Linked DNA regions of Homo sapiens. The protein of the gene in region 1 purifies or fractionates together with the protein of each later gene. This does not show direct contact. Each region holds a gene or a part of one and is shown in the gene's direction. Other genes may lie near its edges.

Region 1 (3,653 bases):
GTCTTCCCGCCTCATCATGTCACCTCTTCTACAGCGTTCTTTATGATGTGCTTAGATGTGAGCCAAAAGCTTATTTGAACCACAAGATTAAATATATATTTGGGAAGGGCCTGTGGTAACTCTTGGGGATTCACAATAATGGCCAAAGTCTGGCCACACCTGGGTGGTGTGAGGTTTCTTCCTTTCTGCTTCACTGGAGAGTCAGGGGTGAGTCAGATACAAGCAAAACAGCCCAAGAGTGCATTCCTTCCATGCCCCAGATACTTACTTATCCTCCCTTGACTAGGCCAGAAAGACAAAACATATCAGTTCCTGTAGCAAAGGGGTTCTCTGGTCCAACAATTACAAAGCTCTTTGATGAACTCAGTGTTTTCTGCATCAACCACCACGACAGGTATTTTTGAATATTGAAAATTTTAGGTTTTCTTGTTTCTCCTCCTGGTTGTTTCCACTGTTTCTGTGCTTCTTATTTCCTATAATTGCATTTTGGAGGCAGGAGAAACAGCCTCAGGGTTCAGGCTTTTCAGGACCAACAGAGCTAGGGCCTCACTGGGTCTTGCTCAAAGTAGGTAAAAGCAAACACAGGCAGATGCTGGTGCAGGAGACAATCTTGCTTCCTAAGAACTGTTGCAACAAGCAATCCAGAGTAGACAAAGCCTATGAGGATCTGGATAATAAAGTTCCCAATGCAAGGTCAGTTTGTCCTTAGAGGTGTCTCTCAGAGGCCAGGAGTCTAAGAAATCCAAAAAGCAAGCTCAGCTGTTTCAGCAGGAGGAGCTGGGATGCACAGAGGAGAAGGTGGAGCACATCTTCACAAACACAGCGTTGCCTGGCTGTCCTTAGCAAGCAGCTCACCATACTCCACCTTCTCCACCAGGATCACCTGCAAAGCCAACAGCCAATAAGACCTTCCTGAGGCAACTTACTCCAGATGTTTTGCTCTTTACCTCATTTTAAAGATAAATAAGTAAATGGAAAATCATATTACATTTAAAAACAGCCCGACTTCTCTCTCCTTTCTTGGGTCATTTCTTAAACTAATGAGAGCTTTATTTAATCAAGCTCTGCAACCGTGAACAGTTAGGAAATTCCCCCCAGCCACAAGTGGGTACTTACAAGCAGGCAAGGCTCTGGACTTCTCTCTGATCTTTCCTGCGCAGAGTGAAAGCACTCCTGCACACCTTGGATGTCTATTAGCTGACTCCTACCCCCAGAAGGAGGGCACCTCCAGTTCTGGTTTCCTCCCACTTCTAGGGAAGCATTGTTTCCAGGTAGGTGTGTCTGTGCCTGTTGGGTTTTTCTGCAACACTTAGACACAGATGCAAACCTTTTCTCCACCCCCTCCACCACCAAGAAAAGGATGTTCCTGGCATATGTCATGCAGCAAAACAGTAAGTCAAGCACCTACAAGTCTTAGTTCTCTTTTTTGATGACTAGATTACCTAACCTCTCAAGTAAAGCAAGCGATTTGAAGGAGGAAGAGTGGGAAAGGCTGAAATATTAAATGTATACACACATATATATTATATATATACATACATTATATATAATATGCATAATATATATATGTGTGTGTATACATATTTAGATTGAGAAGGAAAACCTACCAAGAGGAGATAGGAAGACTCTAAAGAAGGTATCAATAGAAGAAGAAAAAACTTTGTGTTATAAAAGGAAAGATAGAAATGGCATTGCAGGCCAGGAGCCATGGATCTTGCCTGTAGTCCCAGCACTTTGGGAGGCCGAGGCAGGTGGATCACTTGAGGTCAGGAGATCGTGGCCAGCTTGGCCAACATTGTGAAACCCTGTCTCTACTAAAAATGCAAAAATTAGCCAGGTGTGGTGGTGCACGCCTGTAATCCCAGCTACTTGGGAGGCTGAAGCAAGAGAATTGCTTGAACCCGGGAGGTGGAGGTTGCAGTAAGCCAAGATCATGCCACTGCACTCCAGCCTGGGCGACAGAGGGAGACTCTGTCTCAAAAAAATAAATAAATAAAATGAATAAATAAAAATAAAAAAAGAAAGAAAAGAAAAAGAAATGGCATAGCAGAAAATATGTAGAGGTTGACAGTTAAATTAAAATAGAAAAAAAAGATGGGGGAAAAAGATTCAAAATAGGAATGAGACTGGGAGGAGTTTTAGAACATGAACCACATTTCTAAACCAAATCTTGGAACGCAAAGTCTAGAGAGAGTCTAGAATGTTTGAAATTTGGATCATTTCAGAAAATCTGAACCTAGAGAATTCATGAAAGTCAAATCTTTTCAAAATTTTTAGACGTTAACCAGAGTTCTTCAGTGAGCCAGTTGCCTTCGTAAAATAATAACACCCCCACTTACTCCTGATATTACCATATCGTCATCTTTGGTGGGTTAACTAAAGAGAAAGGAAATGAATCATAAGAATGGTTAATGTCACTGGATTAATGCAAAACTTTGTATCTTTTTCTTTTTTTAAAAAAACATTTTACCTCCTTTACCTTTTTGTCTCTTCCTGGACCAACTGGAGATAAAAATCAATCTTTGGCATCTATTGAATTAAACTGAACACTCTCCTTTACTTAATAAGAATGTATTTTAGAGGATCTGGTTTTGCTTTTAATTTTTTAGTGGAGAGACTAGCATCCCTGGCCCATATATGTATCCCCATTATCTGGAAAGGCAAGTGTTGAACGGATGGGAATACTGGGAGCTACGGTGTTTGCCACCCAGCATCTTGGATATGCTAGACAACCCCCTCTGAAATTCTCTTGTTTCATTGGGATTTCTGTAGCAATGTACTGAGAAATAGTAAACTTCTGTAGGATTTCACCAGGAAAATGTTAGTTAGCATTCTCGAATTTGGTTTCTCAGCTCTATAGGCCCAGACTTCTTGGGAGTAACTAGTCTGAGGATTGGCACACAAATCATCACATACATTTAATTGTTCTTTACATGTTAACTAGTATATTCATTAATTGTGGAAAATATCTGAGAACTAAGAACTAGGGCTGGTCATATGTAAAATATATACATCTCTTGATGAGAAAACAAGTAATTATAAAAGGAATTATAATTTTGAAGAGTCTCAGATAAAACAATGGGAATCCAATAATTCTCACTGGATATTTTCACCAGACTGTAAAAGAAAGTATCATCCCCCAAAGAACAAACATAGCATTGAAAATAAAACATAACTAGCCCTGCATCTAAGTTCTCTGCTTTCATAATATAGTTACTTCTTTCATTTTTTTATTTCAATACAATTTTTATTAAAAAATATGTTGGACTGAGATTAAGGAGACATGGTTTCTAATTGTGCCATTAACTATTTTCCACTTCCTCGAACCACTGGGTGCCTTGATTTTTCCATTGGTCAAATGGCAAAAATAAGGCATGCTCTACCTATCCTTAAGATTAAGCCAATGAATTGTTTTTAAAAATTAGGAAAATGCTTCACAAGTAAAAAGTAGGATATTTATATAAATCGTTTTCTGTGATTGTTACAAATAGTGTCGTACATTATTTGGAGCACAGAAACAGCTTGTAGATCCCCTTGAGCTTTTAATCTAACAGACTATTCTTCTCTGGCCTCTGTTTGCTATAGCTTCTTCCTTCTATTCTTTGGTTTCCATTTAGTATTATTTTATTCTGCCTACACAGAGTTAAGATTTC
Region 2 (3,653 bases), on another chromosome or scaffold:
CAATGTAGTTTTTAGTGGAAATTTTTGAATCTCAGAATTAGTAAGTTTAATGATAATTTTTATTGTATAAACGTAATACGTTTATTATTAAACATATTAATATGTTATACATTTCAAATATTTTATTGGTGGGAAAAGGTAACCCCACTAATAATTATTCAATCCAGAGTAATATAGTCCATAATACATCATATAGTCCATAAATCCATATAGTCATTATCTATTGCAGTCATTTTTCAAACTAAAGATAGCTATAAGTATGTGCTATCATTTCTGATTTCAAGTATATATATATATATATATATATACTTTCAAGTATATATATATATACACACTCTATTCCTAATCAACACAGGTATATTTTGATACCGTATATATGGTATCAAAATATACCTGTGTTGATTAGGAATAGGGTGTATGGACATAGCTTTGCTTGTTAAACCAACAAGATAGAATTATGTCTTTTATCAATTTTAATTCTAAGAAGTTCCTGTTTCCAGTTTATGTAATAATTTATATCTTGGCCCCTAAATGCTCTTTATAAATACATTTCAGAATTTTATCAGCATTTTCTTTCTAGTTCTTGTTGTTGGAACATCAGTCTTCTTAATAATAGTCCCAGGTGGCCGGGCGCAGTGGCTCACGCCTGTAATCCCAGCACTTTGGGAGGTGAAGGCGGGCGGATCACAAGGTTGGGAGATCGAGACCGTCCTGGCAGTGAAACCCCGTCTCTACTAAAAATATAAAAAAAATCAGCCGGGCGTGGTGGTGGGCACCTGTACTCCCAGCTACTGGGGAGGCTGAGGCAGGAGAATGGCCTGAGCCCGGGAGTTGTAGCTTGCAGTGAGCTGAGGTCACGCCACTGCACTCCAGCCTGGGCGACAGAGCGAGACTCTGTCTCAAAAAAAAAAATAGTCCCAAGTGCTTTCAATAAGTTATGGTCAAATTAGTTATGAAAACTAGCTTCCAGATAGTACAATGCAGAGAAAAAACATATATACAGGAGTGTTTTTATTTTACTCATTACCATAATGTAATTATCAGTTGTAAACTGAAAGTCTGCTGAGAGTCTGTTCCTGCGTCGTATTCCCGGTTTTCCAGGGCCATTACAGATTACCACAAACTTTGTGGCCTAAAACAATGTAGACTTGTGTTGCTGTCATTCTGTAGCTTAGAAGCCCAACCCCTGTGTCTCACAGGGCTTAAGTCATGCGATCAGTAGGGCTGCATTGCCTTCTGCAGCTCGAGGGAAGAACCTGTTTTCCTTCCTTTCCTGGTTTTTAGAGGCTGCCCACATTCTTTGGCTCTTGGTTTCTTCCATCTCAGAGACAGCAACACAGTGTTTCATTGACCACCCTTCTGTCAGCAGAGCTCCCCCCAGCCGTAACTGGGAACGCCTCTGTGCAGAAAAGTTACCCTTATGATTACACTGGGCCCACCCAGGTAATCCAGGGAAATCCCTCATCTCAATTTCCTTATCTGAACCGCGTCAACAAAGTCCCTTTTGCCATGTATAGTGACATATTCACAGGCTCCTGGGATTAGGACGTGGACTATTTGAGGGCCAGCCTTCTGCCTACCACATGCGTACATATTTACCTTGGCATAGTTATTTTAAAACAATCTGATACACAAATGAAAAGGGAATTTACACAGGAAACAGACGGACAGAGTCTCCTCCTATACTCGTACATTAGCTCACCAGCGATTAGTCCATCTGCAAACAGACGAGAAATTTGCAGGGAAAGCAATCAGAACAGGGACAAAAACATTCTTGTTTTAGATTGCATATGTTTCTCCTTCAATTTCTTTTTTTTGGGGGACAATGTGTGAGTGATTAAGCAGCCGGAAGAGTGGCGAACCACAGACTGTAGTCTTGGAATGTCGAGTCTTGCCTGTAAGATGTTAAAATAAGAATCGTTTTGGCCTGGCATGATGCATAATTGTAATTGTGAAAAAATTTAAAGCTAAAAGTTTTTTTGTTTAAATTCCAATAAAATATGTTTACGTTATTCCTTTGATTAATAATAACAAATATATAGCTCGATTAAAAAAGTCTCTGAGACACACAGCTAACAGTGAGGAGACCACGCATCATTATGTGGTTGTATTAAAGCACTCATCGGTTGGAATCTGAGGTAGAAATGGTATAATACAAAACTTTATTTCATGCACTGTTTTCTAACTAACTGAAGATGTTCCTAATTGACTGCTTTTGTACCTTTTTGCAAGCTTCCATAGTGACCGTAATGCACCTTGTCAATGCTGTGGTTGACACGGTGAGCACAGAAGGTACAGTTGTAAGTGCTCGTGCTTGTGTCTGTGTCTTGCAGCAGCCGTGTCGTAGAGCTCGGCCGCATTGCTATTGCAATGGTAGGAAAAAACAGTTTGTGGTTTTGAGGGGGTTGAGTCCTTTTATTTTATGCAGGTGTGTATATACGTAATATGAGTGCTTTGCAAAAAATATCTCAATGTATGTTATGTCTTTGTTCCTTTTTACCATTCATAGTGATTTACATGAGATCTGGAGAGCTTATCTGTAGGTGGTGCAATCAAGAAAAAGTTCAGAAGTAATTTTACCTAAAATTTTTTTGAAACAAAAATTCTTCTTCGTATGTACAGGAATAAGACTTGAATAATGTAAAGCTTTCATAATTAACCTGTAACTGACTCTTCACTTTTGGTTTTTCCCTGAGTATGATCAAAGAAAAGGGTGTAGAGCATGGTAAAAGAATATTTTCATATTTGGTTTAGTGAAAATTATTTAATGTGAAGCTTTATCTGCTCAGAGTTGTAAGAAAGGACATTGAGCACCTTCCCCAAATTATTTTAAATTAAAATAGCCCTTTATTAGTGCACTGAAATTCATCACATGGGGAAGACACAGGCTAGTACTTTTCAAACTGTAATGTGAATCAGATCATCTGGAGGGCTGTTAAAAGCCCAATTGCTGGTTCTCAGCACCAGCATTTCTGATCCAACAGGTCTGGGTTGGGACTTTAGAATTTGCATTTTTCACCAGTTCCCAGGTAGCTCTGATGGTGCCGGTCTAGAGATCCCACTCGAGAACTGCTTACAGAGGCCATCGAGTACACAGACGTCATCATAGAGTTCGGGGGATCCTTTATGCTAGGACATGATGCTGTCAAGGTTCAGGAGGAGGGAGGATAGCTCTGGGCCCCATTTGCTATCAGGCAGAAGAGGCTTAGATACTCCAGTGTTCATGGTTATAGTTACTGATGACGCCTACACTTCTTTTCCTAAGAAGTACCATGTTTTCACTGGGCAAATCAGAAACATACCTGTATTTTGTCTAGTGAAGTTTTAGTGTTAAACTGATGACCTTCAGCATTTTAAATATTATTGAAGCTTATAGAAGCAGAATTTCAACAGTTCCTTCATTGCAGTCTCCTTCATTGACAAATATTTTTTGGCATATCCAAGAAGTGCACATGGAATTTAAAGTTGAAAGCTATTACTAGTGCCTACGTAACAAAAGTTGTTGATCTTTTTTTGTTTAAAGGAATTGCTGCTTTTGTTACTAGACTTAAAAATGATTCTGTAGATACATGTTACCTAAATGCCGGCGTATTCATGTTTTAGAGACACCACAGTCTTTTAAAATTACTGAAATTTCTAGAAGTGAACTATCA
Region 3 (3,653 bases), on another chromosome or scaffold:
CTGCTTCAGCCTCCCAAGTAGCTGGGACTACAGGCATGCACCACCATGCCCAGCTAATATTTATATTTTTAGTAGAGACGGGGTTTCGCCATGTTCGCCAGGCTGGTCTCAAACTCTGACCTCAGGTGATCCACCCGCCTCGGCCTCCTGAAGCGCTGGGATTACAGGCGTGAGCCACCATGCCTGGCAAATAGCCGTTTCTTAGAAACCTCAATTCCTAGTCATGATTTACAGTGCCTGATTTCTGTACCAGAATGAGACACATTGCTGAAAATTTGTCCCTTTTCCTTTTCAGTTTAAGAACAAGGTTTAGTGTAACCTGTTTCTGGCTCTTTGTTGTCATCTGTCAAGGGCCATTTTCTGGGTTTTGGTTTTCGTTGTAACATCTGCACTTCTCAGCAATCCTCAGGAGGAGGCAGGAAGGATGGGACTTAACACCATAGCATCCTTGAAATAGGCCGTTCCATGCAGGGAGTATTTTAAGCCTCCCTTTTATCCTCCCTGCCTCGCTTGTGTGGGTTCATTCCCCAGGGCGTGCCAGGTAGAGAAAACAGCCATGTGGAACCCAGCCAGCTGAGAAGGCAGTGGCTGGAGAGGCTGGTGGCGTAGGAAGTGTCACCATGCACCCTGGTGATGAGAACAGGGTAGGCCACCTTACCAGGTAGTGGCCAGAGGTGTGGGGACCCTCAGGGGACCTCTTGGCTTCAGGTGAGACACCCCCAACTCTCCCTTTCTCCAGGCCATGTGCATGATCATAAACGGTTTAATTTCTTCATTGCGCTTCCATGTAGATTGCAAGGCTAACAGGACTTGGTATGAACTAACCCGCATGTCCATCCACTGAGCTGCCAGCACCGGTAACACCGTGTTGAGTGAGAAGTGAGTTGGGCGATGCTGGGTTGCACGCCTGACTTCGCCTTTTCTCCCCTGACCCAAAGGTGGCGACCTGCACATGACCCAGTTTTTCCGAGGCAATCTGGCTGGCTTAACTCTCCGTTCCGGGAAACTCGCGGATAAGAAGGTGATCGACTGTCTGTATACCTGCAAGGAGGGGCTGGACCTGCAGGTCCTCGAAGACAGTGGCAGAGGCGTGCAGGTAACACCGAGCGCTCGACTGCACACCACTCATGGGCCCCTTAGACTACAGCCCCGGAGGCTGGTGGGATGAGGGAGTGAGTAATCTGTGATTGATACGTTTACTGTTGGGTAAAAGAGTTGTGTTCACTGGACTTAAACGAGCTTTTCTTTTTCAAGTCAGCAATTCAAATCGAACCCAGGCCAGTCCCCTTTGTGGAGGCATCTGTGGTTTCAGCTCCTGCGGTTACTGGCTTATTCTTCTCCTCTCTGTGGCTGGTGTGATTTCAGATCCAAGCACACCCCAGCCAGTTGGTATTGACCTTGGAGGGAGAAGACCTCGGGGAATTGGATAAGGCCATGCAGCACATCTCGTACCTGAACTCCCGGCAGTTCCCCACGCCCGGAATTCGCAGACTCAAAATCACCAGCACAATCAAGTACGTCCTGATTTTTAACAGCCGGCCTGTTTTGCCCAATGACACTTGTATATTTAGGTTTTTAAGACAGCCTAACCCCTTCTGTAAGGAAAGGTGAGCCATCGTGTGTAACCAGAAAGTGTGGGGCAGAGAGCTGAGTGATATTTACGCATCTTGTTTGCAAGTGTGTTCCTGGAGTGGCCCCGGCAGGTGTTAGTGGGGGCCTCTGTATCCCACCTCCATGTGCCTTTGCACAGGTGGGCTCCAAGATCGGCTCCCAAAGCCCTGACCCTTCCCCATTTCTTGCTGGCAGGTGTTTTAACGAGGCCACCTGCATTTCGGTCCCCCCGGTAGATGGCTACGTGATGGTTTTACAGCCCGAGGAGCCCAAGATCAGCCTGAGTGGCGTCCACCATTTTGCCCGAGCAGCTTCTGAATTTGAAAGCTCAGAAGGGGTGTTCCTTTTCCCTGAGCTTCGCATCATCAGCACCATCACGAGAGAAGTGGAGCCTGAAGGGGACGGGGCTGAGGACCCCACAGGTAATGTGCTCTGTGGGGCGCGGGCTCCCTCGCCTCGGCCGGAAACCCCATTGTCCCCATGTACTTGGCGGGGCTCTTTGTCTCTGTGGGATTTGGGGAGGTTTTAATCTTTCGTTGGTGTTCTCTCGGGTGTGCTTCTGGAATCTGACCCGTGAGCTGGAGCTCATGGTGATCTCTGGAATCCCATCTGGAGGGGTCTTACATCTTTTCCTGGTTGCTGCCAGGCTTTGAGATGTGGCTTGAGGTTGAGGGGTTGAGGGCACTTACGGGAGACACTGCTTGCACCTGCCAGGCTGGCCAGCCCATGGAGGCACAATGTCCCCACAATTCTTGCTCAGGACACATGAAACTCCCCCCCTTTTTTTTTTTTTTTGAGATGGAGTCTCACTCTGTCGCCCAGGCTGGAGTGCAATGGTGTCATCTTGGCTAACTGCAGCATCCACCTCCTGAGTTCAAGCGATTCTCCTGCCTCAGCCTCCCGAATAGCTGGGATTACAGGGACCTGCCACAACGCCCGGTTAATTTTTGTATTTTTAGTAGAGACGGGCTTTCACCCTGTTGGCCAGGCTGGTCTCAAACTCCTGACCTCAGGTGATCCACCCGTCTTGGCCTCCCAAAGTGCTGGGATTACAGGCGTGAGCCACTGCGCCCAGCCGTTTCTTGAAAGCAACTCTCGCTTGCTTCTGTCGTTGGTCCTTACGAGAGCCATGTAGGTTTGGGGTGAGCCGGCAGGGCATCCAGTGTGCCCCGCCACGCTGGGCCCCACTGCCCCTACTTAATATTTCTGGTTGGGCCTCTTTTGCAGTTCAAGAATCACTGGTGTCCGAGGAGATCGTGCACGACCTGGATACCTGTGAGGTCACGGTGGAGGGAGAGGAGCTGAACCACGAGCAGGAGAGCCTGGAGGTGGACATGGCCCGCCTGCAGCAGAAGGGCATTGAAGTGAGCAGCTCTGAACTGGGCATGACCTTCACAGGTAAGGGGAGCGCTGCAGCCACGCAGGTGGGCCAGGCTGCAAGAGGGGACTTTGAGAGCTCTTGGCTGGCTGCTGCCTGCCATCTGAGAATGTTGAGTTATCTTAGAGGGAGATGGGGAAGGAGCACGTTCGCTGGGATCATTGTTGGCTGCACGCATACTCCTGTCTCCTGGACAGGTACCGGATGTGTAGCCACTACTCTCTAAAGGGGGAGGGTTGAGGCGTGGGATGACACGTCCCCCACAGAGGGAAGAATGCCCCTGTGCACATTGCATTTATTCCCATGGCTAGAAAGCCAACTTGTGTGACCCCTTGGCCTAGCTAACCTGGGTGTCTAATTGAGCCTGCCTGTGCTGACGGCTGCAGCCCTGCCCATGCTCCTGCCCTAAGCCACCCGGCAATCTTCCCCCTTTCAACCCCTGCAGGCGTGGACACCATGGCCAGCTACGAGGAGGTTTTGCACCTGCTGCGCTATCGGAACTGGCATGCCAGGTCCTTGCTTGACCGGAAGTTTAAGCTCATCTGCTCAGAGCTGAATGGCCGCTACATCAGCAACGAATTTAAGGTGGAGGTGAGTACAAGGCTCCCACTGAGCAGGGCCAATAGCAGCAGTGAGTGAGGGCGCTGATTTGCAGCCCTAATAT

What was found.
Region 2: the proteins of CD96 (region 1) and FAT1 purify together in Homo sapiens (affinity purification with mass spectrometry, with the first as the bait; one large-scale study listed by BioGRID). This does not show direct contact.
Region 3: the proteins of CD96 (region 1) and CLSTN1 purify together in Homo sapiens (affinity purification with mass spectrometry, with the first as the bait; one large-scale study listed by BioGRID). This does not show direct contact.

Annotation. Positions count from the first base shown.
Region 1 is NC_000003.12:111,594,184-111,597,836, forward strand, and holds part of CD96 (T-cell surface protein tactile isoform 2 precursor), read left to right. Parts: coding exon of another isoform or gene 1-18; exon of another isoform or gene 19-883; intron 884-1,116; exon of another isoform or gene 1,117-1,319; coding exon of another isoform or gene 1,320-1,391; intron 1,392-3,653. Other genes in the region: ZBED2 (zinc finger BED domain-containing protein 2), read right to left, coding at 1-18. UniProt on the Homo sapiens protein: May be involved in adhesive interactions of activated T and NK cells during the late phase of the immune response. Promotes NK cell-target adhesion by interacting with PVR present on target cells.
Region 2 is NC_000004.12:186,591,332-186,594,984, reverse strand, and holds part of FAT1 (protocadherin Fat 1 isoform 1 precursor), read left to right. Parts: intron 1-3,653.
Region 3 is NC_000001.11:9,733,328-9,736,980, reverse strand, and holds part of CLSTN1 (calsyntenin-1 isoform 1 precursor), read left to right. Parts: intron 1-938; coding exon 939-1,096; intron 1,097-1,365; coding exon 1,366-1,514; intron 1,515-1,806; coding exon 1,807-2,033; intron 2,034-2,838; coding exon 2,839-3,009; intron 3,010-3,434; coding exon 3,435-3,580; intron 3,581-3,653. UniProt on the Homo sapiens protein: Postsynaptic adhesion molecule that binds to presynaptic neurexins to mediate both excitatory and inhibitory synapse formation.